2 linked regions of the Homo sapiens genome follow. The protein of the gene in region 1 purifies or fractionates together with the protein of each later gene. This does not show direct contact. Each region holds a gene or a part of one and is shown on either strand. Other genes may lie near its edges.

Region 1 (3,500 bases):
CACTGTGATAAAGCTGGTCCCTGCCATAATTCCTCTTCTTGTCCTCCTCTTCTGTGACTTAGTGACACTGAAACGTTCTAGTAAAACCCATCATGCTTTTTCTTGGTGTCCTCCACCCTGACTCCCATTAAAGGCAATGGCTTCTCATCTCTCATCTCTCTTGCTTCCCCATCTGCTTGGTTGAGCCTACTCCCTGGGAGCTCCTCCCATATGGCTTCCTGTGTGGCATGCCCTACCCAGCTATGCCTCTCCAGATGAAATTCTCATGACCAGGTTAGAGTGATCCTTTAAGACACAACCTGCAGGACTTACTCTACCATTTTCAACACTAATGGCAATGAGGAGGGGATTATTCTAAACCGGGGTAGCAAATTCCTAGGAGATGCACTTTGACTGTTCATGGCTTACGGATTTGCTACTGATTGGCTCCACAATTTGAGAAGGTTTTTTTTTTGCCCTGATGCCTTTCTTGTGTTGTGCTATGCACAGCTATGTGTTGCCTTTTGGAGTGCTGCCAAGACTCTCTATCCTAAAATGTGTATCCTATTCCAATATCAATAATGACAGCTGCCTTTCTTCAAGAGCACAGGATGTTATAGCAACCTCTTCAAAGAAGACTCATGTGATACTTATAATAATATCACATAATCCAGCATCTCTGAGTTGTTTTGAGGTGCCAGTGGCAATGTATTCTACATTTACAAATTTTACTTGCAAATTAAAATCAACAGGCACTCCTTTTAGTGCTTTCAAACAAACAAAAATACCTCTTCTCTCTAGAGACTTTGGCAATGATTTTCATTCCTCTTGGAATTTCTAGACCACTCCTGATGGTCATAAACTTCCCCAGGGCTTCTAACGCAAAACAAAAAATAAAACAAAACAAAAAAGCCCCTCTCTGCCTTGTTCTTTACTTCATTCTAACAAAAAATGACTGGTTATCTACTAGAATCTACTGGCTTGTGGTCCAGATCTAGGGGGAATATTTCCTGTTGCAAGCATTAACCACTGGTTGTCTCACAGGCCAGTCCCTGCTCATCTGAAATGGGTCCCACTGGAACTTAAACTTCTACTGAAACACAAAATTAAAATTTGTCAGGTGCAGCTGCACACCTTTCTGTTGACAGTGGCCTTATTACTACTGGATTTGTTGATGCAACAATCCTCAACCAAATACTAGCTAACTGAATTGAACAGCATGTAAGAAGGATTATAAACCATGAACAAGTGGTATTTATTCCTGGAATATGAGTATGTTTCAATATACAAATGACAGACAAACAATATGGTATTCTACAAATATTTATTTATAGAATAAATAGAAAAAACACATGATCATCTATTTTGATGCAGAAAAGCATCTGGTAAATTTGTACATCTATTTACGATGAAAACAATAAAAAGGATATATGAATACTTTCACAAGATGATAACATTCACCTACTCATACTTTATTTTTATTGCACTTATCATTGTCAAAAATTAATTTTTTCATTCACCTATTTATCATGTGTATTGATTACTGTCTTTCTCTGCAGTGGATGTAAGCAACAAAAGGGCAATTACTTTTTCTCTTTTATTCTACCAAAGTACCCCATGTTTTTATGTCAGATCCTGGCACATAGTAGGTATCCAATAGATATGTGTGTAATGTTTGAATTGCTCAGTGGGACATTTCCCTCGAAGACTGAAATCTTCTATTTTAGGTGGTTTGCTCCTGTGGAATTTGACAGAAAATGAGTTTCCCATGTAGAGGACTTAGTGAAAAAAAATCAGTTTGCAAACATACAGAAAGTAGAAGAGCCCAGAGAAGAAAACCACAATCTCCCTTCACACCACATTGCCCACTCCACACCCAAGAGCAGCAGCTGCAGAAATCTCATGGAATAGAATCAAGACCGGAAGTGTTTGAGTAATGGTGAAACCTGTGACCTCTAGAGTCAGAGTGCCTGAGTTCAAATCGTAGCTCTACCAGTTACCAATGAGTGAGCCTGGAGCACTTTGTGCTTCTGTTTTCTTATCTGTTAGGAAAGGTGACAAGAATATCTACCTTGTATATAATGATCACATGAAGTAAAAGAGGTAAGGCATTTTCAACAGTGTCTGCCACATGGTGAACGTTCAAAAATTGTAAAGTTATTGCTCAGTAGATTTCTGAGGCTTGGAGGCTTCAGTGGACATTAGATGACAAGGATAAGGATAAGGGTATGGATATGGATATAAATATAACTATAGTTATAGGTAATATAGGCAGACCTGTGTCACCTGTATCCCCACATTTTTTTCCTCATTTCTACCTTCATGGAAGAGGGAATTTCAGGATAAAAATGCACAGAAATTCTGCTTTGAGGGAAAATGCATTTTACCAAGAGAGAAGTTTGCTTATCTGTTGCTTCTATTAACAGATTGGAGGACTTTCAGTGGTAAGATTAGAGAAGTAGGAAGGAGGGAGAGTGGCTGGGCAATAGGGAAAACCACACATCTCTTCAATGTGCATTTCATATAGACTGAAAAAATGAGTTGAAGTTTACAGTAAAGAAAGTCTTTAAAATTCTGTGTGTGTTTCAGCATGGTCACATGAGATTTATCTCAGGAATGCAAGGATGGTATAACATTCATAAATCTCCAAATGTGATATGCTACATCAAGGCAATCTTGAGCAAAAAGAACAAAGATGGGGCCGGGCATGGTGGCTCATGCCTGTAATCCCAGCACTTTGGGAGGCCGAAGCGAGCAGATCACGAGGTTAGGCAATCGAGACCGTCTTGGCCAACATGGTAAAACCTTGTCTCTACTGAAAATACAAAAAATTAGCCAGGCATGGTGGTGCACACCTGTAGTCCCAGCTACTTGGGAGGCTGAGGCAGGGGAATCACTTGAACCCGGGAGGTGGAGATTGCAGTGAGCTGAGATCACACCACTGCACTCCAGACTGGCGACAGAGCAAGACTGCATCTAAAAAAAAAAAAAAAAAGAACAAAGATGGAAGCACCACACTGCCTAATTTCAACATTGACTACAGTGTCAAAGTAATCAAAATGGCATGGCACTGGCATAAAAAGAGATATATAGACCAATGGATCAGAGCAGAGAGCCCAGCAATAAACTCACACATTCACACTCAATTGACTATTGACAAAAGTGTGAAGAAAACACAATGGTGAAAGGTCTGTCTCTTCAAAAAGTGGTGCTGGGAAAGTTGGATATCCATGTGTAGGGGAATGAAATTAGGCCTTCTTCTCATGCCTCATACAAAAATCAACTCAAAATGGATTAAAGATTTAAATGTAAGATCTGAAACTGTACAAGAACTAGAAGAAAAGTTTCATGACATTGGTCTTGGCAATACATTTTTGGATTTGAGCCCCAAAGCACAGGCAACAAAAGCAAAAATAGACAAAAGGCATTAACAACAAACTAAAAAAGCTTCTACCCAGCCAAGGAAACAATCAACAGAGTGAAGAGACAACCTATAGAATGGAAGAAAACATTTGCAAACC
Region 2 (3,500 bases), on another chromosome or scaffold:
TTATTTCTTTAAACTATATGTCATGTAACACAGTGGTATCACAGACACTGATTACTTTAATACTATTACTTTAATTACTAATTAAAATATATATATATATATATATATATATATATATATATCTGCCTGCCTAGGTACCTTTTTCAGCTGTTGCTAGCACCATTTCTCTGCTCTGATCTCCATCTTATCAAATTTCAATAGTAGTTTTTTATATTACTTAGCCTTTCAGTAGCATTTGACTTATTGATCACTTCTTTTTTCTTGAAATACTTTCTTTACTTGGCTTCTAGGACACCACTTGCCCCCAGCTTTCCTCCTACGTCAACTAGTCTTTGTTGTCTTCATTGTTCTTTGGTCTTCTTCCTGACCTGTGTAAATATTGCCAGTCCCTGAGCTTATGAGCTTATTACCCCTGGCCCTCTCCTCTGTCTACCCTCATCCCAAGGTGATACCCAATGTCATGACTTAAATAACATGTAGAAGTTGCTGACTTCTACATTTATATTCTCAACCTGGACCTTTCCTATAAGTCCCAGACTTTTCTGTCCAACCGCCTACTTGTCATCTCCACTTAAATGTCTAAAACATGTATCAGGCATCAATAGCCAGAGCCAATCTCTTGATTTCCGCTTACCCCTCAAAGTGCTTCTCTCCCAGTCTTCTTCATTTCAGGTAGATACCTCCATTCATCTAATTTATTCAAACAAAAACCTGAGAGTTACCCTTGATTCTTCTCTTTGCTTTGTACTCCACAGCCATCTCATTGTCGTATTTTCCTGGCTGTACATCCAGAATCTGACCACTCCTACCTAGAGAGCTGTAGTAGCCCTTTCAACTGGTCTTCCAGCTTCCGTGCTTGGCTCCGTTACATTTTGTTCTCCACACAGCAGCCAGACTGATGTTTTAAAACATAGATCACTCACTCTCTTGCTGAATCTCTCCAGTAACTTCCCATCTCAGTTAGCTAAACTCCAAATCCCTAATTGTGGCCTATTTTATAGCCCCTGCATGTTCTTGATCCTGCTTGTTTCTGTCATCCTCATCTGTCAGTTTCTGCTTGAGTCATTATACTCTGGAAACCCTGGCTTTTCTGCTGTTCCTCAAACACGTTAAGCTTGGGGGATTTTGGTGTACTGTTTTCACTGGGACACTCCAGATTTTCTCATGGGTTACTCCTTTATTCAACTCTGCTCAGATGTTAACTATTTTCCCTCACTATTTTTTAGTCTTTTTAAAAACTCTATTGCATTTTTCTGTATAATCTTTTTTAGAGCCTGGAATTATATGCGTATTTGTTTACTTTTTATCTTCCATACAAGAAGAAGCTCTTTGAGTGCAGAATTTGTCTTGTTTATGACTATATCCCTAGTGGCTAGAACAGTGCTTGGCACATAGCAAGCAGCCATTCAATATTAATTTAAAGAAAATAAAGAGTGTAATTGCCATAAAGGTTGTGTTTAAAAATATTATTTTTTTCTTTTAAAAGAATGTCCAACACTGGAATGAATTGCTATTGAGAGGCTTGGCAGTTTCCTTAAAAAGAAAAAGAAACCCAGAAAAGTCATATAACAGTTAATATTTTTCCAGGCAGTAGGAGATGGATTTCAGATGAAACGGCTGTATGGTCCTCTCCCTGAATTTGCACTCAGCTGCATTTTTCAGAACTGATTGCATGTAATTCTTAAATGGAGCACGTGATCTGCCACCTTTCTAGAATAAGGACTCATCGCACATCTGTATCAATGTAGTACATTCCTAGCCAGTCTTCGTGCCTTAATTCAGGTCTTCCTTGGCAGCATCCCTCTCTCTTCCAACCCTCCCCAGTCAGCTTTGCTGCAGATTGATATCCCTGAGGAAATAGGTAACATTTTATCCAAAATCTTTTTTGCAGATCCTTGAACTTGTAGTGTGCCCTTGCCCCTCTATGTCTACTTCTTACCATTTAGCACTTAGCATAGTTTATAATTCATTGTAAGTATAGGATTTTCCTTAACTAAATTGTAAAGACCATTTTTTTTGTATATCTGATTTCTTGTCTACCCATTGCAAAGGTAAGAAATTCATACTGGATGATTATGCCAACAATTCAGTCAGACTTTAGAAGATGTTAGTTGCTAGTAGTGAAAGGATTGTTGACTACATTTCAGTTTGCTGGTAGAAAAAAATACTTCGTTGTTGGAGCATTACTGATTAATATGCTGAATCAAGTTGTTTTAACTTTAAGCTCTTTTCAGCCTTAGATCTCACACTTACTGGGTTCAGTGGTGGGATGTTTAAGTCATGGATCCAGTGATCTGGCCCTCAAAGAGCTTCAGTCATGTAGGCTTCTCTATTCATGGGCTGGGTTGATGTAGAAGCAGCCCCGTCACTGCTAAATGCAGTTTGTGGTGGAGTAGAGAAGGCAGTGTAAAACCTAAGAATCAGTTTCTCTGGGGTTGTCACTAATGTGTGTGCTCATAATTTAATTAACACATGGTAATTTCCTAACTTCTAACTCCAGTGATGAATGCAGTCAGTAATAAGCACTGTTAAGCTAGTAATTTTCTTTGCAGTGTATCTTGGCCATTTTTATAAAAAATAGATTGAAATTGAAGATTCAGTGTGTTGCTAAGAGCATAATCTCTTTGAGATACCATGTTTTTGCTGAATTGGGATCTAAATTAGATGACAGTGCACATTCTTAAGATAGACATCATTTTCTTCCCAAACTGAACATTTTCCTTTCTTGCTAAATATGTGTGTGTGGGGGGGATATAGGCACTATATATTTCCAACTGAAATTGTAATCTCAGCTTCTGAGTTTGCCATCAGTTTTTATTATCTCCTTATTTTAGTTTAGAACTCCACATATACAAATGGGTATTTATCCTTTTTCCTCCTGTATTCTTCTTCTTGGAAAATGACATGATGGCTCCAACAAGTCATCCAAGCCCTAATTCTAGTAGGTGGTCATCTCTGTCTCTTCTCTTTCATGTTCCTTATAACTAGTCTGTTACTAAGTCCTGCCAATTCTACCTCAGAATACTCCCTTTCAGTCCCCCTACTGCTGCTCTGTTGAGCATTGAGGCTCTGCACTTACATCAGGCCCCATCTGCATCTCTATGTCCAGTGTTACTCCCCTCCAGATCATCTGCCAGGTTGCCACTAAAATGACTTAAAAAAAAAACGTAAATTTGATTGTTATTCCCATGCTTAAAATACTCTCCATTGCCTGCTTCAGAATAAAGTTCAAGTTCTTTAGCCTAATAACTAGGAAATGGTTTCTCTCGGATGCCTCATCTCCTACTACTTTCCCCCTTTGCAGCTTCTGTCTACTTTCTAAACTGGGATAAAGGAGAGAAAAAGTTTATTTTTCTTAAAGCCATGCTCAGTTCTGTCTAAATCAGAACAGGGTCACCATTGACACCACTCTCACCCTTGGTAATTCTTCATCTCTCCAGTGTGAATTGAGGAATCCTTTGAGTCTTATTATCAAGCCAGGGAACTTTATGAAGCAATCC

What was found.
Region 2: the proteins of SIRPG (region 1) and SPCS2 purify together in Homo sapiens (affinity purification with mass spectrometry, with the first as the bait; one large-scale study listed by BioGRID). This does not show direct contact.

What each region holds. Positions count from the first base shown.
Region 1 is NC_000020.11:1,651,280-1,654,779, forward strand, and holds part of SIRPG (signal-regulatory protein gamma isoform 1 precursor), read right to left. Parts: intron 1-3,500. UniProt on the Homo sapiens protein: Probable immunoglobulin-like cell surface receptor. On binding with CD47, mediates cell-cell adhesion. Engagement on T-cells by CD47 on antigen-presenting cells results in enhanced antigen-specific T-cell proliferation and costimulates T-cell activation.
Region 2 is NC_000011.10:74,955,766-74,959,265, forward strand, and holds part of SPCS2 (signal peptidase complex subunit 2), read left to right. Parts: intron 1-3,500. UniProt on the Homo sapiens protein: Component of the signal peptidase complex (SPC) which catalyzes the cleavage of N-terminal signal sequences from nascent proteins as they are translocated into the lumen of the endoplasmic reticulum.